Linked DNA regions of Homo sapiens: regions 1 and 3 are each linked to region 2. Evidence: fine-mapped expression QTL. A gene starts in region 2. Each other region holds a variant in brackets. All regions are shown on one strand. Distances are from middle to middle.

Region 1 (8,184 bases), 870 kb after region 2:
ATGTAGTTTGCATATATTTTCTCCCAGTCTGTAGCTTGTTTTCTCATCTTCTCAACTAGATTTTTCACAGAGCAAAAGTTTTTTAATTTTTATGAGGTCCAGTTGCTCCAACATTTGTTGAAAAAGCTCTCCCAGGGCCAGGCGCAGTGGCTCATGCCTGTAATCCCAGTACTTTGGGAGGCCGAGGTGGGTGGATCGCCTGAGGTCAGGAGTTTGAGACCAGCCTGGCCAACATGGTGAAACCCCCATCTCTACTAAAAATACAAAATTTAGCCGGGTGTGGTGGTGCACACCTATAATCCCAGCTACTTGGGAGGCTGAGGCAGGAGAATCACTTGAACCCAGGAGGCGGAGGTTGCAGTGAGCTGAGATCTCGCCACTGCACTCTAGCCTGGGCATCAGAGAGAGACTCCGTCTGAAAAAAAAAAAAAAAAAAAAAAAAGAAAGAAAGAAAGAAAGAAGGAGGGAAGGAAAGAAGGAAGGAAAGAAAGAAAGAAAGAAAGAAAAAGAAAGAAAGAGCTCTCCTTCTTCTCTTGAATTGCCTTTGTACCTTTGTCAAAATCAGTTGGGCCTATTTGCGTGGATCTATTATAATTTAATTTTTAAAAATAGCTATGTTTAACAACCAGTTCACGGCTCTCTCAGCAGGTTCTGACATAAGTTTGGTCAGCCCCTCCAGTTTTCCCCACAACCTCAGCATTTGACTTTGTGTCCTGCTTCTGTGGCAAAATAGTACCCACATGACAATTCCCTTTCCTCATCTCCAAGTCTACAAACCTGCACGCCCACCACCTCAGGTCTGTGCTTGCCTTCACCCTCCTGCTGGAAGAAAAGACCCCAACCCTCCTCCCTTCTGAGGCCAGAGCACCTGGTGCTCTGAATTCTGAACCCCTGCCCCCCCACTTCCTTAGACACCTCAGCCCAATGTTTATCCCTCCTGCTCTCCAGGCTCTCAGAATTCTTTTTATTTTCTTTTTATTTTTTTTATTATTTTGAGACAGGATCTTGCTCTGTCACCCAGGCTGGAGTGCAGTGGGGTGATCATAGTTCACTGAAGCCTCAACTTCCCCAGCTCAAGCGATCCTCCTGCCTCAGCCTTTTGAGTAGCTAGGACCACAGGTGTTTGCCACCATACCTGGCTAATTTTTTTCTTTTTTAAATTTTTGATAGAGACAGGGTCTCAGTATGCCCAGGCTGGTCTCAAACTCCTGGCCTCAAGTGATCCTCCCTCCTTGGCCTCCCAAAGTGCTAGGATTACAGGCATAAGCCACCATGATGGCCAGGCCCAGGCTCTCAGAATTCAAACAGATGTGCTTCCCAGGCCCATGCTCCAGGTCTGCCCTGCCTCCCCCTCAAGCTCTCCTTCCCACTCCCTCATCACATCTCCCATTCAGTAACTTGTTCCAAGAACCAGTTTCCACTTCCTCCCCCACTCTCCCTCCTCAATATACTTTGGTCTCCTTTTAGTCCAACCACAGTGCTGAAGCTGTCCTCCTCAGGTTCTCCAAGCAACTGAACTGTCCCCGAATCCCACCTGTGTGATCTCCATTGACGCTCTGCATAGCTGGCACTGCCATATTCTCAAGACATTGCCTCTCTGGGCCCCCATGTAGCCCTCTCTTCTGATTGGTTCCTGGTTTCTGCTTCCTCTCTCCTTGTTCCTCACATTTTGGGATTCCCCAGGGCTCTTCCTGGCCCTCGGCCCTCTCTCCCCCACACTCTCCCAGGGCAGGGTGATCCTGCCTGCTGGTGCCTCGCCCCCAGATCTCCCTGCCTATCTAGGCTGTCTCCTCAGTGCCACCCCCGGAGCAGAACACCTCCTCCTCAAGTCCCCTTGGGGCTCTTGCAGGTGCCTCAAACTCTACCTGGCCCAAGCCCATGGAGCTCAGCCCCTCTTCCCCACTCCTCCCACAATCAGTGGTCCCCAGTCCCATTTGCCTCAGCCACTCTTCTCACCCTACCCCTGCACCCAGCAATCACCAAAGCTGTCCATTCTGCTCCTGCCTCTCCCTTGAAGCCTTCTTTTCTCCTTCCCTGCTACCACTGGTTCTGGTCACCAGGATCCCTCATCTGGACTGGGGCAGCAGCCTCCTAACTGGTCTATCTATCCCCCACCCAGTGCATTCTCCACACTTCAGCCACAGTGACCTTCCTAAAGTGCAAATCTGACCATGTCACCTCTTAGCTTAGAGCCTTCTACTGGTTCCCCCAGCCCTCAGCACAAAGTCCATTTGAAGTGGACCTTGTGTGATCTGGCCTGGCCCAACTCCCCCTTTCATGCCAAGGGAGCTGCGCTTCATTCAGTTGCTCAGTGGAACTCAGGGCCTCTCTTTTTAAAAAATTGAGATATAATTCATATACCATACAATTCACCATTTTAAAGTACAAAATTCAATGGGTCTTGATATATTCACAAGATTGTGCAACAGTCACTGCTGTCTCATTCCACAGCATTTTTATCACCCCAAAAAGAACTTCTGCCTATTAGCAGTTATTGCCCATTCCCTCTCCCAACCCTGGCAAATACCAACCCGCTTTCTGTCTCTATGGATTTACTCATCCTGAACACTGTCTACAGATGGAATCACATAGCATGTGGCCCTTTGTTTCTGGCTTCTTCCACTGAACATACTGTTTTCAAGGTTCCAGGGCCTCTCTCTTGCCTGGGAACTTTAAAAACACTGTTCGTCTATCCCCAGCAAGCCCCCTCCATCCCTCTACCTGGAGAACTCCTGCTCAGCCCTCAGGTCTGATTATCCCTTCTTTGGGGGGCACTTTTCTGACCCAGATCCCTGACCCTCAGGCTTGGCTGGGACCCCTGCTTTATGCCATAGCAGGCTCACTTCTCCCAGAATAGCCCTCATCACATTCTACGGTTGCTATTGATCTAAGCTGCTCTCCTACTGGACTGTAAACTCCCTACGTTCTGTTCACTCCTGTACCCTAGGGCCTCACCCAGGCCTGGCACATGAAAGGCCAACTAATGTGCTGCATAAAAAAGTAAACCAAGATCTGCTGGAGCTTGGGCAGAGTCCACTGGGAATCCAGCACAGGCACCTCGAAGCCTCACTGTGTAGCCTCTCATCCTTTCCCTGTCTTTTTCCTCTCTGACATCAGGATGGGATCATAGGGGAATGTAGGGAAGGGCTTTGGACAAGACCCTGTATCTCAGAGAATCTGGAATAGTGGGGGGCAGTGGAGAGTGGGAAGCTGCCAGCCCATAGCCCTGTGGAGTTTTTGTTTAGGAGAGGCAAAGCTTAAGAGACTGAAGCCCTTGAAAGGCCTTCTGAGCTCCTGAAGGTCGCCCAGGCTGCTTTTGTTCTTGT[A/C]TTCCCATCCCCAGTGCTGGAGGAGAAGGAAGTGTCCAATATGTGTCTCAGGAAAGAGTCAGTGGAGACAGGCTGTAGCTTTGGGGTTTTCAGTAAGAGCACCCTGACTCCACCTGTGCTTCTGCAGTACCAGGGAGGTTCACTATAGTGCAGAGTTGCAGAGTTTCTTTCTTTCTTTTTTTTTTTTTTGAGACACAGTCTCACTATATCACCCAGGCTGGAGTACAGTGGTATGATCTCGGCTCACTGTAACCTCCGCCTCCTGGGTTCAAGCGATTTTCATGCCTCAGCCTCCCATGTGGCTGGGATTACAGGTGCATGCCACCACACCTGGCTAATTTTTGTATTTTTGTAGAGATGGGGTTTCATCATGTTGGCCAGGCTGGTCTCGAACTCCTGACCTCAAGTGATCCATCCACCTCGGCCTCCCAAAGTGCTGGGATAACAGGTGTGAGCCACCGTGCCTGGCCTTACAGTGCAGAGTTTCTGTCTTTCCCACCCATGCTGGCACTGCTGGGGCCTCGTGGTGGTGTCCCAGGAGGAAGTGTGCTCCAAGAGAGACACATGCTGGGGCCCAAGGAGGAGAGTACGGGATCCTAGAGTCTGGGCTGAGGACTTCCTGAGTCCCACAAGGCAGAAGACTCGGGAGGTTTGCAGGATGCAGTCAACGCCAATACCTCCCGTAGAGGGAGAGGCATCTGCTCTCTGAGTCAGCAGCGGATCAGAAAGCAAAGCTGGGGGCTTTATTTCCAGAAGGCTCAGTCTGTGGCCCATTTGGATCTTGACCATTGTCATTCAAGACTCTATCAAATGCTCACTGGGGGGTGTTTCTACTAAGGTGTAAATGCTGCCCTACTGGAGCCTGAATCAGTCAGTGCAGGTGAGGGAGCAGAAATGTTGAAGATCTGCAGTTTTGTCCCTAATTCACTCTTCGGGCATTTGCCTTCTCTAGTCTAACTCTCACTATAATAGCGTGAGCTGGGTGTGATTATCCCTATGTTACAGATGAGGAAATGGAGGCTCCACGTATCTGGCATTTTCTGAGATCCCTGGGAGCGTATTCAGCTCAGGGCAGAATACAGGTCTCTAGACTCAAGTTCTTTTCACTGCAGAATGGGGTAGAAACGAGGGCCCCCTGGGGCTCCTCCACAGCTAGGTGCTCTGTAGTTGTTCTGGAGAGGGAATTTCTAGGGAGGTGAGGTCCTAGGAATCCAACTTCATTGCTTAGGTCAATCTAGATCCAAGTTGGATGAGACCTAGTGCAGGGCCAACAGGGCTAACATTGCCATATTTAGCAAATAAAAAGACAGGACACCCAGTTAAATCTGAATTTCAGATTATCCACGGATCGTTTTTTAGTGTAAATATGCCCCTGATAAACAACAGATGCATTTTTAGTGTAAGTATTATTGCATAGCACACACTCCCATGCACACGCATGTAAAGTCCAGACAGCTAGACTTGTCTTCCCAAGCCTGGCAAAGAACAGCAATTAATTCAAATGAAGAAATCACCACTGGTAGATATTTAGACCTGAGTGTAGGGTGATATTTTTGTGGGCAGGAACCTTCCAAATATTCTCTTCAAATCTTAATGCTCAGATGAAAAATTACTGGTTTGCTGGGCTTTCATTGTTATGTTATTGTTATTGCTTGACTTGGTGGCTGACAATAACAGTGTGGGATAATAACAGGACCCACTCACAGAATTGAGATGATGAAATGAGTTAAATGGAAAGTGCTTGTTAAAGGGGCCGAAGTCATCCAGGTACAGTTAACTGAGGGTACCGGACCTGCGGGCAGCAGGAGCGCTCACGGGACCACTGGCGCCGCTGTCCATCGCCCCGCCTCCCACCCTGACCCTCTCCAATCCCCTTCGACTGGGCCCTCGGGGATGGGCATTCAGTGGTCTTGGCAGAAAAGAGGCCCAGAAGGGCAGCTCTAGGCTGGCTGGGGGGTTCGGGGGCCGCCGAGGCTGGGGGACCCCGGGGCGCTCCGTGTGTCTCTCCCTTTGGCCCCCTGTGCTTCGCTGGGCTCAGCATTGCTGACTCAGGGGAAGCAGGAAAAGGAAAGGGGGTAAAAGCCAACAGACAAAACCAACAATAAAAAAGGGAAATTTGCTGAGCGGGTGGGATCATCCAGACCCAGCCGGGCGAGTCAGGGCGCAGCTCTGCGCCTGCGGACACCGACCGCGGCAGTTTGTGGCTCCCCAGGCCGGAGATGGCACCTGGGGAGAGGCCCCAGCCCTCCCGGACCGGGTCAGAAAGGGGCACAGGGTGGGCTCTGTGAAGAGTCGGGGACGGGGATCGTGAAGACATTTCCTGTACTGATAGATTCCTTCCAGGACAAAAAGAAAAGGCACCCGAGCAGCTCAGCGGTTTCCAGAGGACTCGAGTCTCCTCCGACTCGACTCCTTGTGAGAGAGATTCCGACTCCCCTTTTCTGGGAGACACTGGGCGGACAGCCGGGATGGTACCGGGGTTCCCAGCCCTCCCACGCCCGCCCAGGCAGTCCTCCTGCGTGGGGAGAGAGGACTCCGCCGGGCCCGCGCGCGGACCTGGCGCGCATCGTTTCATTCCCCTCCCACCACCAGCCCCGCGGGGCCAGCACGGTACCATGCCCCGCGCAGGGAGGGATTGAGTAATTTGCCCACGGTCACAGGGCGCTGGCACTAGAACCCAGGCGTCGCCCTCCCGGCCTCCCGGCCCAGCTGTTAACCCTGTGCTCTCCTGTCTCCCGCTGGACCCAGCTGTGGCCTCAGAGCTCGGCTGGCACCGCAAATAGAACGTGTGTTCCAAACGTGTTATGTTGGCTCAGAGGCAAAGGATTGTGGCTGCTGGGGGGTCTGACTGGGTGTCACCCTACCGGATACACCTATCTACCGAATCGTGGAATTGTTGATGCAGAATCGACCTAAGCAAATGGGTCTAGGATGCGATTTTTCAGCTGAGGAAACAGGCCCAGAATGGGGAAAACGTGTGCCCAGGCCACACAGCATCAGGATTAGACTCCTGGTGGCTGGCATCCCAGTGGGGGGGCCCTTGTTAACTCTCCCACGTGGCTGCGCTCTTCTCCCCAGCCCGGCGTGGAAAGCCTTGACCAAGACGGCGTCCTTGCCCCGGACCTTGCTTTTTGCAACCCCCACCCCTTTCAGCCGCGTGAAGAGCCGCGAGGCAGAGCGGGAACACACTGCCTCTGCCCAGCACCCCTAGCGGTTTCCCGGTGAGGCAGAGGGGTCCCCGGAGAAGGTGGAGGGCGCTTTCCACATCCAGGCGTGGGGGACTAGGCTGGGCCTCTAGGCCGAGCGCCGCCTGACGGTGGAAGCCTACGAAGGGCTTGAGACACCGCGGCCCCGACCCATGTGGTGGCTGAGTTTGGCGAGAGGAGCACGGGCCAACGTTTATTGGGTAGCCACCGGGCGCTGGGCACAAACCGTGGTTCAATCAGCTTAAAGGACTGGCAAGCGCGTATTGGAGACCCACGGCCTCCCCTGTCCAGGCCCTGGGGGTACCTGGTTCCATCAAGCCTATTTTAAATGGTCCTGAGGCTGCCTTTTCAGATACTTGGCCCCTTTGGCCACAGAATATGTGGGTCACAGATGCTCCCTCCCCACACCCCACAAGGGTCCCTTGTCTTCTTTTTTAATTTTTTCTTTTTTTCTTTCTTTCTTTCTTTTTTTTTTGAGACGGAGTCTGTCGTTCAGGCTGGAGTGTAGTGGCACGATCTCAGCTCACTGCAACCTCTGCCTCCTGGGTTCAGGCGATTCTTCTGCCTCAGCCTCTCGAGTAGCTGGGATCACAGGCACACGCCACCACAGCCAGCTATTTTTTAAATAGTTTTGGTAGAGACGGGGTTTCACCATGTTGGCCAGGCTGGTCTCGAACTCCTGACCTCAAGTGATCCACCCGCCTCGGCCTTCCAAAGTGCTAGGATTACAGGCGTGAGCCACCGTGCCTGGCCTTAATTTTTTTTTAATTTTTAATTTTTGTGGGTACACAGTCGAGGTACATATTTATGGGTTACATGAGATATTTTGATACAGGCATGCAAATGTGTACTAATCACATCAAGGTAAATAAGCTATTCATTCCCTCAAGCATTAATTATTTTAAAATGTACAATTAAATTAATTTTTACTATAGTCTCCCTTTTATGCTAGCAAATACTAGGTCTCATTCATTCTTTCAATTTTTTTTGTACCTATTAACCATCACCCCTCCCCCCACCCCCACTACCCTTTCCAGTCTCTGGTAACCATCCTTCTATTCTCTATCTCTATGGGTTCAACTGTTTTAATTTTTACCACCCACAGATAAGCGTGAACATATGAAGTTTGTCTTTCTGTGCCTGGCTTATTTCAGTTAACATAATGATCTCCAGCTCCATCCACGTTGTCGCAAATTACAGGATCTCATCTTTTTTATGACTGAATTGTACTCCATTGTATATATGTACTACATTTTCTTTATCCATTCGTCTATTTTTTTTTTTTTGAGACAGGGTCTCACTATGTTGCCTAGGCTGGAGTACAGTGGAGCAATCATGGCTCACTGCAGCCTCAACCTCCTGGGCTCAATTGATCCTCCTACCTCAGCCTCCCAAGGAGCTGGGACTATAGGCACATGCCATGACACCTATCTAATTTTTGTATTTCTTTGTAGAGACAGGGTTTCACCATGTTGCCCAGGCTGATCTCAAACTCCTGGGTTCAAGCCATCCACCTCCCTTGGCCTCCCAAAGTGCTAGGATTATGGTTGTGAGCCACCGTACCCAGCCCCATTTATCTATTGGTGGACACTTAGTTGCTTCCAAATCTTGGCTATTGTGAGCAGTGCTACAGTAAACATAGGAGTGCAGAT
Region 2 (8,184 bases):
ACCTGGCTTAAGTGGAGGGTTGCCAGGCCGCCAGACCCACCACAGAGGAGAACACAGTTGGGTACCTCATCACCAAGAGTGCTCAAGGACCCCAGGTTGAGCTGCATCTTGACAGGCCAGTGTCCATGAGGAAGGGAGGATGGGCATCAAGCCTCTACCCTGTGGGGTTTGCTCTCTCACTCACCATCCAATAAACATTCAGTAAGCACCCAATTTATGCCAAACACAGCTGGGCACTGGGGATCCAGAAGTGAATAGGGCCGTGCCCACCCTCGAGAGCCCGAAGTCTAGAGGGGGAGACGGAGAAGTAAACACAATTGCAGCACAGGTAAGGGATGTGACAATAGAAGAATACAGAAGGTGCCATGGGAGCCCTGAGGCATGGCTGCTAGGGAAGCCTGGGCTGAGACACAGGGGCTGGAGGTCTGAGCTTCTGGGCTCTGCCTGACTCAAAAGCCAGCCAACTGCTGCCCTGAGTGGGAAAAGGACCAGCGAGGAAGGAGGTGGGCGGCACTGAATATTCCTGACAACACATGGCCAAGCTGAGAAAGCAGGCACCACCCCAATATCTGCACGGAGCTGTCCTGCAGAGGGAGGTGAGGAGAGGCAGCTGCTCTGTAGCCACCCTAACTGATTTAAATGCAACATCTAGGATCTTAGAGCAGCTACTCCAGGCCATGGAATCCCCACAGTCAGTAACCCAGCAACATGATTCTGGGAAGAAAATCAGAACTCCCAGGTCAAAGGGGAAGTGAGATTTGAAACATGAACAGTAGGAACTGGTCCCAGTCCCCCAAAATTCATTAGTTTTCTGAGTCAGACTCCAAATGCCCCAAGAGTCAGGGCTTCTAGAGCAACAGCAGACGTAGCCACCATCACCACCAGCACCACTATTCAGAGCCCAGAGGATGCCGGACACCTTCCTAGTGGGTTCCAGGCACAGACACAATAACCACTGCCATGCGGCAGCTCCAGAAGCCGGCCAGAGCATGCACTCTGCCTGCAAAGGGTGTGGGCTGACCATCATCTCATCCATAGGTGCTTCCTGGGCAGAAGAGCAGAATTTGATTAGGATGGTGGAAGTCTACAAAAAAGAAAGCATGGGAACCAGTCCCTGAAGAGGAGCTAGGAAGAAAGATGGCCCCCTGATCTGGGGAGGCAGCATTTTCTCTCCAGCTGCTCTTGTATGAATATACCTGTGCAGCACTGGGTTTGGGGGAGAAGGGACATTCAATAACACCTGAAAAGTACTGTCCCCTAGGAAGGGCAATCAGGACACAGGGAGATTCATCCTTAGATCCAGCTCTAGGTCTTGAAGAAAGAAAACAGTCCCCAAAATGATTCATTCATCCTTAAATAGTTCACTGAGGCAGAAATTGTTTCTCCTTTAGAGGAGAAAGATTAAGGTCAGAGAGACAGATACATTGGCTTAGGGTCACACAGTAAGTTGGTGCCAAAAAGATGCTGAGCCTCTTGTCTTTCAGTGTGCTATTTCTAGAGCCTCTGATTTTTTATGAGTCTACTGTAGGGCCAAGAAGGGGCTCTATTCTAATTTGGGGTGGTGCTAGCTTGGCCACCCACGTCTTCTGACCTTGAATGAAGCATTTTTACCAAGGTAAATGGGTCTGTGGAGCCAAACTCTCTCCTGGCTGAGATCTCTCAAAGTCGTTTGTCCGATAAAAGGGGGGTAGGGTGGAGGTAGGGGGTAGGGAAGCTCGAGAAAAAAAAAATGACCAGGAACACAAGTGTAACAGATGCACCCAGCTGTTGTCACTGGCGAGCACAGACAAGGGTGAGGTACCAATGGCTCCAAGGGAGACAGTCTCGGCAGATAAAGGAAGTCAGAGTGACGACCTAAAGTCCCTGAAATGCTAGTGCTGGCTCCGAGGATGTCACGTCACTGGCCTGGCACACTCAGTGAGCACAGAGACTTCACTGATACTTGCCCCTAAGTGGGGAGTCTCTTAGTACATCCCCCAGCACTGGTAGAGTGGTAAGGGATTTTCTTGTGTTTTTCCCTAACCTCCAGCTGAAGCAGAACCTAGACTATGGGAACTTGGGTTGACTGGTTAACTACTAATACTGCCCATACCCCAGCTATAGCAGCAGCCATCTGTGCTGAGGACTTCCCCCAGCGGCACTGTGGTTCAGTAGAAAGGTCACCAGACCAAGCCTGCTAACCAGCTGTTGGACCTTGGACAAAACATTTAACATCTCTGTGCTTTAGTTTTCTACATTTTATAGACATAAACACAGATGCTGGACAAGATGTCTTCTAAAATTTTTTTCCAGTTTTACAACTGAGCATTTGATAGGAGCACAAGTTTCATTTTCCCCAGGAGTAGGATGGCTGAGTGCGCTGTCATCACCACCCTATGGGATTTCTCTCATTTGTCCCAACAGGCCAGCACTTATGGGCTTTGTGTCTGCACCTCACCCCACGGGCCCTGTGAAACCTTTCCAGCAAATGGCTTAGATGTCTGTTCTGCTCCCTCCCCTAGGAAACATATTTTAGACTCAATTCTTCCCTCCTGCAAGTCTGAACTTTAGGTCTCCAGCTGAAGTGGGCAAGGATGGTGGGCTCCAGAAGCAGCAGCTCTGGTGTGGTAGGAGCCAGAAGAGGAGGTGAATGGGGGAAGGATGTCCCTATGTTCTCACACCCCAGGACCTCCAGGACTCTCTAGCCAGGAAACAGGGTCGAGCTGGCATTGCATGATCTGGTTCAGCTCAATTCTCAGCTTCAGCAGTCTTTCTGCCACCCCTGATCACACTGGGTTGGATTTGTGGGGGAGGGAGTCAAGGCCTGCAGACATGAACATACATGCTTAGGTCGGTCAAGTCAACAATGAACGGCAGAGTGGGATGGGAATCCAGGTGTCCGGAGTCCCAGCCCAATACTTTTTCCACCCCAAGCAGAAGATTCTGAAAGGACCCCTGGCCCTCCGGCCCAACACGGGGTCCTGTTTAAAGACACTGGTGATTGCCAGGCTCCAGGGGTGAAGTCTGGTCCTGAGAAGGGTGGCAGGGAGGGGACAAAGTTTGGGGCAGTGCTGGGATGGGAAAGACATCTGCACCTGGAGGCCATTCTTCCTAGACTTTGGGGGGGTGGAGGTGGGGGTAGATGAGGCCTGCAAAAGGAAGAGATGATGCCAGTAACCCATCCTCTCTGAGGTGGTGGAGAGAGAGGTTTGGGTTTTTCCTTCCTCTTCTTTCTTTGCCAGCCGGGCCTCCAGGCCCCCAGGCCTGAAAGTCAGCCGCCACCCCCGACCCCCATCATGAATGTGTCAGTGGGTCCGCCTTGGGCCAACAGGCTCCCTCAAACCCACATTTCTAGCCTAACACAGACCCTCCTCCGACGCCCCGAGAATACCCATCAGTCTTTACTGATTCCCTGGCATACCCTCCTCCCTACAACGCCCCCTGCAGACGCGGCGTCCCCGGGGTGTCCCTCCCCAGGATAAATTCCCCCAAAGTGCCGTCAGCCCAGAAAACTCGGCAGTGCGGCTCCCGCGCGTGGGGCACCCCGGGCCACCCTTCCACCCCGCGGGGGGACCCCGCCGCCCAGGTGCCCTCGACCCCGAGACTCACCCAGAAGAGCATGTTGAAGAAGAAGAGCAGGTATTTCACCAGCGGGCTGACGAAGGAGAACTCCTCCCCGGAGGCGGCCGGCGCCCGGGGTCTCCGCGCCATGGCCCCGCCGCCGCCACCGCCCCCGGGGGCCTATTTCCCAGCGGCTGCCGGCCGGCCTGTGTGCCCCGCGCCCGGGGGCATGAGCCGAGCCGCGCCGCGCAGGAGCCCGGCCGGCGGGGGAGCCTGCGCTGCGGCGGGAGGCGCCCGAGCCGGGGGGCCGGGAGCGGCGCGGGCCGGGGAACCGCGCCTGGAGCTGCTGGAGCCGCGGTGGGCAGCGCGAGCGGACGAGACTCACCCGCGGCCGCAGGACCAGCCCGGCCAGCCAGGCGCCCAGGAAACCCGGCCCGCCCCCGGCCGCTCATTGGCGCGACGGCTGGAGCCCGACTTCCCATTGGCTCGTGGCTGATGTCACTAAGTATCCAGCCATCCCTCTCCACCGAGAGTCGGGGGAGACACCTGTTCTGTGAGGGATAACTTGTTAAAGGGTCAGCGGTTCTGCCTCTCCCCTACCCCTAAGGGAAAGCATCCAGGCTGCAGCTGCTCAAAGGAACAAGAGTGAGGAGAAGGAATGCACAGTGCATCCCACACCCACGTCCTCCGCCCAGCTGCTGTGCACATATGCAAACACACATACATTAAAATCAACAAGTACGCACACCGTGTGTTGAGCAATGCGCCGAAAGCTCTGGGAACGCGGGAGAACAGAAACAATCCCTGGGGGATGACAATAAAATCAGGGAGACAAAACTAACCTACACATAACAATTAGACCAAGGGTAGATGCAATCTTGTTTAGTAACTATACATTTTAAATGCTTATTTCAGAAGCTCTACAACCCAACAGTGGAAATTTGGAAACATCACCGCCAATCCCGCCATCCTAATTCATTGCTGTCTCAATTCCCGCCCCCGCAGCCCCTCTTCCCTTGGTCTACTTGCAGACACCGTTTTTAACATGCTGATCCGGCACACACAGGTTGAGTGCAGCGTAGCTGGCGAATATATTATGCTGGCTACCCTAACTAATACAAGTTGAACCTCGGGGAGGGAATCTGATTCCACCATAATTAGCTGCGTGAAAGCTGCAAGCTACTTAATCTCTCGGAGCCTCAGTTTGTTTAATGTTAAATGGGAGAGTCCTGACCTAGATGGCGATTTGAGGATTAAATGAGATAATGCATGTAGCTCACTTAGCACATGGCTGGCACATGGAAGGCTCATCAAAGGCATTACAGTATTTCGTTTTAGCAGAATTAAGAATCCAGTGTGGAAATATGATAACCGCACAAATAATTATAATACGTTTGGTAGAAGGTTAGTGAAGATAGCGTGGCAAGTGAAATTAGGGGAGGATGGGATTTAGAATAGTAGAGACGGAGGGGAAACATAATCCAGGTGGATTAAAAAAAAAGGGGGTGAACCAAAGCCTGGAGGTGCAAAAGCACGCCATGTGTTTCGTGCAAAATAAGCAGACTGCTGTGGCTGGAGCACAGGGTATGCTTGGAATAGCAGTGGGACATAATGCTGACCGATGCCGTTACATGTGGAATTGTGTTAAAACTGCGGAAGTAATTGAATATCAGATTGGGGAGTTAGTGCTTAATTGACTTGGAAATAAGAGTTTTGGAGAAAAGGATGATGGAAAACCCATGGTTTTCAGTTGGAGTGGGAAAGAGGCTGGAGAGAGAAAGATTTGTTAGAAGCATGCTGCTCATCATCCAGATAATCAGAAATCAGGAACTGATTTAGGAGTAATAGACAGAATAATAGATGGTTAGGAGAGGATAGAAGGGAAGGCATTGGAAAGATAGAATCTCTAGGGCTAGGCTGTGGTGACAAGCAGGCATAACAGGAGCACCAAGAGTGGAGGTTAAAGAAGGCAGTCACAGCCAGGTTACTGGGAGATTACTGGCCCTTAACAGGTTAAGTGACACTGGAGATCAGTTTTAGTATAAAGCAGGTAGGGTGGGCAGAAGTCATTTTCCAAGAGGTTAATGAGTGAATAGGTAGGTGCCATTTTCAGATGTTAGTGCGGGGAGGATAGAGAAATAGACCAAGATGCTGAATGTTTCTATTAGATGATCTTCCAGAAATCAGTTTTATTTTTTTGAAACGGAGTCTCACTCTGTCGCCCAGGCTGGAGTGCAGTGGCCTGATCTCAGCTCACTGCAACCTCCGCCTCCCTGGTTCAAGCGATTCTCCTGCCTCAGTCTCCCAAGTAGCTGGGATTACAGGCGCCCGCCACCATGCCTGGCTAGTTTTTGTATTTTTAGTAGAGATGGGGTCTCACCATGCTGGCCAGGATGGTCTGAACTCCTGACCTTAGGTGATCCACCTGCATGGGCCTCCCAAAGTGCTGGGATTACAGGCATGAGCCACTGTGCCCAGCCAAGAGATCATTTTTAATTGAGACGGGAAGAAGAAGGAATATCACAGTGTCAAGGAAGGAATGGGTGGTGAAATGGAAGCTGTGAACGAAACTGTGGACATCTCTGTCTGGCTTTGAAGGTTATGGGAGCCTTAAGGGACTTCAGAGTGAAGGGAAAGTTCTCTGTTAGCATATAAGAGACCTAACATGTTCGTAGGAAACAAAACAAAACAAAACAAAACAAAACAGTCAAGAGGGATTAAGGTGGATAATGGCTGGAATGAGGTTTTGGAATTAACAGGTAGAGATGGGATTAGCCTTCAAAGTGATGACCACAATGTCCCTCATGTGGAAGTCACGGACGGCATCACAAAGTAGGAAGCCATGCAGCTATAGAACAAAGAATTAGGAAACTCTCTCTGTACTGAGTTGGAACGATCTCCAAGTTAACTCATTACGTTTAAAAAGCAAAATGAGGCCGGGGTGGCTCATGCCTGTAATCCCAGCACTTTGGGAGGCCGAGGCAGCCAGATCACGAGGTCAGGAGATCAAGACCATCCTGGCTAACACGGTGAAACCCTGTCTCTACTAAAAATACAAAAAAATTAGCCGGGTGTGGTGGCGGGCACCTGTAGTCCCAGCTACTCGGGAGGCTGAGGAAGGAGAATGGCATGAACCTGGGAGGCGAAGGTTGCAGTGAGCCGAGATCGCACCACTGCACTCCAGCCTGGGCGGCAGAGCAAGACTCCGTCTCAAAAAAAAAAAAAAAAAAAAAGCAACAAGTGGGACAGTGGATACAATATATCACATTCTGGTTAAAGAGAAAGAGAGAAAACAAAAATAAGGAATAACATTTATATTTGCTTCCCTCTGCCTAAATAAACTCTGGAAGGAAACGTAAGACATTAAGAAAGGAGGTTACATACTGGGATGGTGATGAGAACTGAAAAGAGAGGAGAGAGACTTTTCACTGTGTGCCATTTTATTCTTTGTTTTTTTTTTGTTTTTTTTTCTTTGCAGCATAAAGTGTATTAATGATTCAAAATGAAAAAATTACACAAATTGAAAAATCAAAAAGAATTTAAAAATTGGAAAAATGTATCTTTACTATAGAATGCTACGCAGCCATTTAAAATAACATAGAAAACATATGTACTGACTTGCAAAAAGGTCCATGACATATGAGGTGCAAAAATCAGGTTGTAGAATAAAGTATACAGAGTATCTGACAATCAGTGAATAGTTTCAACTTATTTCAAGTCCTTGGAAAAGGTATTCAGTTCTTTGGAATACATAATGTGGCCATTTAAAATGGAATTCAATGGAAAAGGTATTTCAGTTATGTGGAATATATAATGTGGCCATTTAAAATGGAATTCAAAGCAGAAGTGGTGGCTCATGCCTGTAATCCCAGCACTTTGGGAGGCCAAGGTGGGCAGCTGACTTGAGGCCAGGAGTTTGAGACCAGCCTGGCCAACATGGCAAAACTCTATCCCTACTAAAAATACAAAACTTCGCTGGGCGTGGTGGTGTGCACCTGTAATCTCAACTACTTGGGAGGCCGAAGCACAAGAACTGCTTGAACCCAGGAGGTGGAGGTTGCAGTGAGCCAAGATTGCACCACTGCACTCCAGCCAGGGTGACAGAAATTCTGTCTCCAAAAACACACACAAAAAAAACAAAAGAAAACAAACAAACAAAAAATGGAACCCAAAAAACTTATGTAATAGTATGTAAGATTTTAACAATATAAACATATTCACAGTAAGAAATATGGGCCAATTTCAACAGAGATGAAAAAATATAAAAGTAAAATCAGCTGTGTTGTTGTGACGGGACATGTAGCAATTTTTAGCTTAAAAATATATTTAATATTATTACATATGATTATGAAAATAATTAAAATATTTGAATGGTATCTCTGTAAAGAAAGAGGGTCATGTTGCTGGAGCTAACATTGGCAAGAAGGTATGTGAAGAGAGAAGCAGTGACACGGTGTAGACGAGGAGCTTTAGGAAAGGGGAGTTCTGGGTAGAGCAAGGCAGGAGACTCCAGGCAAGACGGGTCAGCAGCAGTGATGGCTCAGCTCGTGTGGCTGATGACTGTGGGGATCCCAGTTGGCCAGGCTGGTGATTTCCTTCAAAAAGCATGTAGACCAGGCGTGGTGGCTCAAACCTGTAATCCCA
Region 3 (8,171 bases), 22 kb after region 2:
TCCAAGAGCTTTTCAAACTTCTTATATTTTAAATGTGTTAATTCATTTAATCCTTAAAACGATGACATGAGGTAGGTACTATTATTATCCGCACTTCACAAATGAGGAAACTGAGGCAAACAGAGGTCACCTAGCTTGCCCAAGGTTAAACAGACAGCCACATCCAGAAAGCTATAGAGTCTGGCTTTAAACCCAGATAGACCAGCTCTAGGTCTGTGATCATAACCACTGAACTTTACTGCTTCTTACAGCAAGAGTGTATCTGACGAAGTCGTGACTTGGAACTGGCCAAGTCTAGGAAGGATCCAGAGTTTAATTCTGAAGAAGGGAAAGGAGGCTGATATTAAACATGCAATATTTCCAGGCTGTGCTCAGATCTTCATGTAGCTCATTTATGATTACAGAATACATTGCTAAAGAAAAATGGTAAAGAAACGATACTCGTATTTTGAGCAAATCCCCCTCCTCAGACTCCATTTCTAATTACTGCCATTTTCTGAAAGAGTTGTAAGCAATAAATTCTAACTCTGTTAGAAGAGAAGAAAATGTACTGCTCAGGAAGAGTCCTGCAAAACAGAAAAACTTCAAGACAAGCTTAAGCAGTGGTTGCAGATTTATTGCACATTACATTATTTGGATGGACAGGTGAATTTTCTTTGTCCCATAATGTCTTAAAATTTTTGAATTTGAGCTGGGCACGGTGGCTCATGTCTGTAATCCCAGCATTTTGGGAGGCCAAGATGGGAGAATCACTTGAGCCCAGGAGTTCAAGACCAGCCTGAACAACATAGAAAGACCTCTGTCTCCACAATTTTTTTTTTAAAAAAAATTAGCTGGGCATAGTGGTGAGCACCTGCAGTCCCAGCTACTCCGGAGGCTGAGGTGGGAGGATCATTTGAGTCCAGGAGTTTGAAGCTGCAGCGAGCTGTGATCATGCCACTGTACTCCAGCCTGGGCAAGAGAGCTAGACCTTGTCTCAAAAAAAAAAAAAAAATTGAATTTGAATGCTTTTAGCTTGAGCTTACTCTCTCCAATTAGCCATCATCTTTACCACTCCTAGTTACAAACACTATATTACTTCCCTGGACCTAGTAGGCATGCATAGAGGGAGATAGAGATCATTTGTGCAACTAGAGTGATACAGCCAATGAGTAGTCAGTAAAGAACGGAAATTAGGGGCACGCCATTATCAGGGACAGGTCTGTTAGAATCCCATAAAAAATTCCAGTTGTATTCAACCTCCACTGACAATGACGTGGTTCCAGATCACAGTGGATGGAGGAGACTCACCATGCAGAACTGAGTGACGCAGCAGGAGTAGCATCGTGGCAAAGGTAAGAGGTGAGGCTGTGCCAACCAGAACAGGCTGTATTGAGGAGGAGCAAGAAATAAGGTTGGAGGTGTTCGCGAAGGGTTTCAAAGGGCAGGCAGAAGAGTTCAGATTGTGTGAGGTGGAAAACAAATAAGGTTTGTTATTTGGGGCCCTGGAGTGCCTTGGAGATATCCTGTCTCTGGAATATCTGGAATTGCAACGGGAGTAAGAAGTTAGAAGAGCGGCTGTAGATGTGAAGAGGAGGAAAGGATCCAGGGGAATCGAAGTGAGGAGGTTGGCTTTTGTCTGTAGAATCAGGTCTGGTCAGAGAGGAAACTGGGCAACGCAATCATGATCTCAGGGGAAGCATCATGATTTGGTGGAGTTGAGACTGGGGCCGTGGACTGCAAACAAGGGGTTTGGGGATATTTCCTATCAGGAGCAGTCTCACATCCATATAGGGGTAGGCCACTGTGCACTTTTTATGTGAGAGGTTCCATAACGTTTCTCTTCCCTTACTTCTCACCCTCACCAACTTGTCTGAAATTCCCACCATTCTCTAATCCAATTCCCATTATGGTTAGGTTAAGGTGTGGAATCACTATTTAAAATTCAAATATAGGCTAGGTGCAGTGAGTGGCTCACGCCTGTAATCCCAGCACTTTGGGAGACTGAGGCAGGAGGATCACTTGAGGCCAGGAGTTCGAGACCAGCCTGGGCAACATGGCAAAACCCTGTCTCTACTAAAAATACAAAAACTAGCCAGCCGTGGTGGCTCACACCTGTAGTCCCAGCTACTCCGAATGCTGAAGCACAAGAATCGCTTGAATCCGGGAGGCGGAGGTTGCAGTGAGCCAAGATCGCACTACTGCACTCCAGCCTGGGTGACTGAGACACTGTCTCAAAAAAATAAAAATAAAAATAAAAATAAAATATTAAAAAGAAAATGCAGAAAATGCAAAGATTTCTAGGAGGGATACCCAGACCAATATCTGCACTTCAAATCTTAGAAGTTAAACATTTATCAAGACATGATTCTGTACACCCTCCATTCAAGCCACCAGAAATCTGAGACAGAATCTCATGTGTCTGAGACTCGACCACTCTGATTTTGAAGTGAAATTATTTCAAATGCTTAAATGGGTAGCACTGAGTGTTTGTCTGTTATTTTTCCAAGCCCAGCACCTATTCCCCGTTCTGGTACCAGCATGCTAGATTTCCTTTGGGATGCCACCCCACCTCCTGTCTCAGGCTCAGTGAGCATGGGAGAGATCTACCCTTCCACCTGGCAGGTGGAACGCCGGACTCTGTTCTGGCCAATCAGAGCCCAGGGATGGTTATGCGCTCTAACTTGGTCCAGTCAGAATGAAGCCTCTAATTTAGTTGGGGAGGAGGACCATTACTGAAAGGGATTCCCTCTCTCTTTTGCTGGGACCCCCTGGGATTACAGATGACCTGCAGCCACTGGGGGCTACCCCAGGGCTCCTGAGAGAGAAGGTAACACTGAGGAAAGGTAGAGCTGAGACAGGGTTAAACCAAGTCCCAGTGACATAGTTTGAGCCACAAGATCAGTGGTGCCTGAAACAAGCCCTAACCTTAGACTTTTCAGTTATGCGAATCAGTGAAATTGTGTGGTTGTTGTTTGTTGGTTTGGTGTTTTGTTTCATTTTGTCTAAGTCAGATAAAAATGGATTTTCAGTTATCTTGAAACTGAAAATCTGCTGACTGGCACGCCATCCCGCTGGCTTGTGTGCTGTGCACATTAACAAGACTCACCTTTTCTTAGGATTCATCCTATGTGCAAGATTACCAGGATGTAGCCAGATTCAGGATGCCTGTTTTTATAGCTTAGCTACAGAGTTTTTCTTCACCTCTAGCAATTGCCTATGCCCTTTCAGCGGCCTCAGCAGGGAGAAGCACAGTGGGACTCCTTGAAAGGCAGATCCAGAAGGCTGGTTATGTGGACAGTTCACCACAGTTAACTGGGGTAACCACAGTTGGCCTGGGCAGTCCAGAAGCAGATGACCCACCCCCATACTGTGGGCAGCTCTTCCTGCAGTGCTTAACTCCAGAAAAAAACCCTCCACCAGTTCCTTACTAAGGTGGTAAACAACCCTAAGAAATCTGGCTCTCTAAGCTTGGGACAGCCAAGAAATGAGTCAGCCTTCTGGAGAAACCCCCCTTGCCACAGCCTGTGCTTCCCCATTTCTGCCAGGGCCCCAG[C/A]CCCAGCCCCAGCCCCCATGTCAGTAAAGCCTATGCATTTCTTTCAAGAGCATGACAAAACCTCATATCTGAAAAGCACTGAAGTGCTGTACCTCTTTCAAAGTACTTGTGCATTCATTATCTCATTAGGATACCAGATTTGCTATTTTTTTCTTCAGATTCTTTTTTTTTTTTTTTTAACTCAAATCCAGCAGAGTTTTTTCATGTGGTTCTCAATGAGACTTGAGAAGAGAAAATCAGAATTCAATCCAAAAGCACAGCTTTTCTAGAGACATAAATATAATCCTCCTCTCTCATGCCAAAAATAACAAGGGGGCAGAGGTTAGATTCTAGAGGAAAGAACATTGAGTGTGAACTGAAACCTTTCTAGTTACAGATCTACCACTAAGTAGCTGTGTGACCTGGACAAGCCCCTTAATCTCTCTGCACTTCAGTTTCTTCCTTTGTAAAATGGCAGCATTGAGGCTTCCTGGGAACCCTGGCCTTGATATTTTCTAAGCATCTTTGAAGCTCTGAGGTTTTATGGCTCGGTGAATTGTAGAATCTGAGGAGACTGATTTATAAGCAAGTTGGCACGTTTTTTAAGCCCAGTCATTCCTTTGGTGTGTGCAAGGGAGAGCCCCTGCTCAGAGTGTCAGGAGCCATAGCACATTGGGATGTAGACTGAGCATGGCCCACTTCCCAGAGACCCCAAGGCCTGCCTTAGGCCCACCTCTGATGGTGGTGGTTGGTTGGTGGTGGTTAGTTGGTTAAATGAAGGGTGAGATCCTGACCACTCACTAAATGCTGAACTCTTGATAGATTAGGAGGAAGCTCTGCTATCTGTGGGATGAGGCACAGCAGATGATGTGGTTTGGCTGTGTTCCCACCCAAATCTCATCTTGAATTCCCACATGTTGTGGGAGGGACTGGGTGGGAGATAATTGAATCATGAGGGCAGGTCTTTCCCATGCTGTTCTCATGATAGTGAATAAGTCTCATGAGATCTGATGGTTTTAAAAATAGGAGTTTCCCTGCACAAGCCCTCTCTGTGCCTGCTGCCATCCATGTAAGATGTGACTTGCTCCTCCTTGCCTTCCGCCATGATTGTGAGGCTTCCCAAGCCATGTGGAACTGTAAGTCCATTAAAGCTCTTTCTTTTGTAAATTAGCCAGTCTCGGGTATGTCTTTATCAGCAGTGTGAAAACAGACTAATACAGCAGATGTCAGATTGGTTCTTGGAATGGAAGGTAAGCGAACTCTAGTGTTTACTGAAGACAGGGCCTATGTAGGGATTGGCAGGGTAGGGTGGTAGGCCCTATTTAGCAGTACAGAGACTGACCCAAGGCACTTTTCTTGCTGAGTTCAACCTTCTTTTGCAACCCTTTCTTCTGGCAAGTGCTTTCTGCCCAGTGGGGAGGTGAAAGGGTCCCTCACCTTCATGAACCCCTTCTGTGTGAATATACCCTCCAATAAATCCTGGCTCTTCTTTCCATTTCCAATGACTACTTTGAGAAATTAGGATGTCAGTGGTTCATCTTGTCTCATGCAAGCCTGAATTATGTATTCTTTAAGAACAGTGACTATGATCCATCAGACTGTCTTCCACCTGTCATTCAGCATGGCTTTGGCTCTGAACTCTCCACCAACCTTTTTCCTTCCCTGCAACACACACATTCAAAACTAAAATAACCCATTACCACCACCACTAACAACCCCCCCCCCCAACCATCCCATTATAGATCATATCCTCCCAGGAAGTTTTTCTTTGTTCCTAAATTAATTCATACCAATGTGGTGATGGCCACTCAGGCTTGTTACTTGTCTACCTGCCCTACCACGACTCTAAATATGTATTTCCATTTTAACAGGAGATGTTGGATCCAATTTGTCAAAAACTATCTCATTAAAGGAACAAACTTGTTTCAGCATCAGACTTATGATGTGATATTTTTGTCTTAATCCCTCAAAGTACTGAGAGAAGGTTGGGTACTAGTGAAGTCAGAGCTATTAGGGGGCACCCTGGCTAATCAGGCCTTCCTCTGGGCCAGCAGTGCCATCCTATTTATACCTACAGTTTTAGCATTCAGAACAAAATCTTACTACACAAAGAAATTTATAGATTTAATGCAATTCCTATCAAAATACCAACGACATTCTTCATAGAAATAGAAAAAAAATCTTAAAATGTATATGGAACCACAAAAGACCCTAAATAGTCAAAGCAATCTTGAGCAAAAAGAAAGCTGGAGGCATCACACTACCAGACTTTAAAATATCCTACAAAGCTGTAGTAAGCAAAACAGCATGGCGCTGGCATAAAAACAAACACATAGAACACTGGAACAATAGAGAACCCAGAAATTAATCCATGTATCTATAACCAACTGTTTTTTGACAAAGGTGCCAAGAACCCTTATTGATAGTCTCTTCAATAAATGGTTGAGGCAAAACTGGATATTCATATGCAAAAGCATGAAACTAGATTCCTGACTTTCATCCTATACAAAAATCAACTCAAAGTGGATCAAAGACCTAAATGTAAGACCCAACCCTATAAAACTACTAGAAGAAAACATGGGGAAATGCTTCAGGACATGGGTCTGGGAAAAGATTTTATAAGACTTCAAAAGCATAGGCAACAAAAGTAACAATAAACAAATGGGATTATATCAAACTAAAAAGCTTCTACACAGCAAAGGAAATAATCAATAGAGTGAAAAGACAATCAACAGAATGAGAGAAAATATTTGTAAACTATTCATCCAACAAGGGATTATTATCTAGAACATACAAGGAATTCAAACACTTCAATAGCAAAAAAGCAAATAATTCAATTTAAAAAATGGGCAAATGGGCCAGGCATGGTGGCTCACACCTGTAATCCCAGCACTTTGGGAGGCCAAGGCAGGCAGATCATTTGAGGTCAGGAGGGTGGATCACTTGAGGTCAGGAGTTGGAGACCAGCCTGGCCAACATGGTGAAACCCCCTCTCTACTAAAAATATAAAAAATTATCCGGGTGTGGTGGTGGCACATGGGTGTAATCTCAGCTACTCGGGAGGCTGAGGCAGGAGAATGGCTTCAACCTGGGAGGCAGAGGTTGTAGTGAGCTGTGATCGTGCCACTGTACTCCAGCCTGGGTGACAGAGCAAGCCTGTCTCAAAAAAAATAAAAATAAATAAAATAAATAAATAAAAGGGCAAATGATCTGAACAGATATTTCTCAAAAGAAGACATACAAATGGATGGTCAACAAATATATAAAATAATGCTCAATATTACTAATCATCAGGGAAACACAAATCAAAACCATCAAGAAGTATCATCTCACTCTGGTTAGGATGCTATTATCAGAAACACAAAAAAATAACAAATGCTGGTGAGGATGTGGAAAAATGGAACTCTTATTCACTGTTGGTGGGAATGTAAACTAGTACAGCCACTATGGAGAAGAGTTGGAGGTTCCTCAAAAAACTACAAATAGAACTACCATATGATACAGCAATCCCACTACTGGGCATTTATTCAAAGGGAAAGAAATCAGTATATCAAAGAGACATCTGTGCCCCTATGTTTATTGCATCACTATTCACAATAGCCAAAATATGGACTCAACCTAGGTGTTCAATAACAGATGAATGGATAAAGAGAATGTGGTATACGTACACAATAGAACACTATTCGGCTATTAAAAAAAGAATGAAATCCAGTTATTTGAAGTAATGCGGATAGAATTGGAGCACATTATGTTAAGTGAATTAAGCCAGGAACAGAAAGTTAAATACTGCATGTTCTCACTCCTTTGTGGAAGCTAAGAAAAGTTGACTTCATAAAAGTAAAAAGTAAAACAGAGGATACTAGAGGCTTGAAGGGCAGAGGGAAGTGGGAGTTAGAGAGATGTTTATTAAATGATACAAAATTACAGCTAGATAGAAGGAATAAGTTCTAGAGTTCTATACCAGTGGTCCCCAACATTTTTGGCACCAGGGACTGGTTTCATGGAAGACAATTTTTCCACAGACCAGGGAGTGGGGGATGGTTTCAGGATGATTCAAGCGCATTACATTTATTATGCACTTTATTGCTATTATTATTACATCGTAATATTAATATGTAATGAAATAATCGTACAACTCACCATAATGTGGAATCAGTGGGAGCCCTAAGTTTGTTTTCCTGCAACTAGACAGTCCCATCTGGGGGTGATGGGAGACAGTGACAGATCATCAGGCATTAGATTCTCATAAGGAGCCTGGCATGTGCAGTTCACAATAGGGTTCGCACTCCTGTGAGAATCTAATGCTGCCATTGATCTGACAGGAGGCGGAGGTCAGGCCGTAATGTGAGCAATGGGGAGCAGCTGTAAATACAGATAAAGCTTCACTCAGTAGCCTGTTGCTTACCTCCTGCTGTGTGGCCCGGTTCCTAACAGGCCATAGACCGTTGTTATGCGACCATGGCTCAGGGGCTGGGGACCCCTGTTCTATACCACTGTAGGATGACTGGATGTAACAATATATAGCTTCAAATAGCTAAAACGGGCCAGGCACAGTGGCCCATGCCTGTAATCCCAGGACTTTGGGAGGCCGAGGCAGGCGGATCACTTGAGGTCAGGAGTTCGAGACCAGCCTGGCCAACATGACGAAACCCCATCT

What was found. PIP is the estimated chance that this variant, and not a neighbour inherited with it, causes the effect.
Region 1: its variant is fine-mapped to the expression of TSPAN33 in monocytes after LPS (Quach 2016, PIP 0.95).
Region 3: its variant is fine-mapped to the expression of TSPAN33 in whole blood (TOPMed, PIP above 0.99). The same link has a PIP of 0.9 or more in macrophages, monocytes and monocytes after interferon gamma.

Annotation. Positions count from the first base shown.
Region 1 is chr7:128,269,432-128,277,615 of GRCh38, reverse strand. No RefSeq gene overlaps it. Among named protein-coding and RNA genes, the nearest start is that of LEP, 32 kb to the right of the region's middle. The variant A/C (reference allele first, on the strand shown) is at 3,327.
Region 2 is chr7:129,140,487-129,148,670 of GRCh38, reverse strand. It overlaps TSPAN33 (tetraspanin 33), which reads right to left and starts at 3,964. Exons shown (of 8, transcript NM_178562.5): 1 at 3,589-3,964. The coding sequence starts at 3,690. RefSeq lists an enhancer at 930-979 and a silencer at 3,842-4,051.
Region 3 is chr7:129,118,108-129,126,278 of GRCh38, reverse strand. It overlaps the pseudogene LOC407835. Among named protein-coding and RNA genes, the nearest start is that of TSPAN33, 23 kb to the left of the region's middle. RefSeq lists enhancers at 3,155-3,424, 3,875-4,044. The variant C/A (reference allele first, on the strand shown) is at 3,536.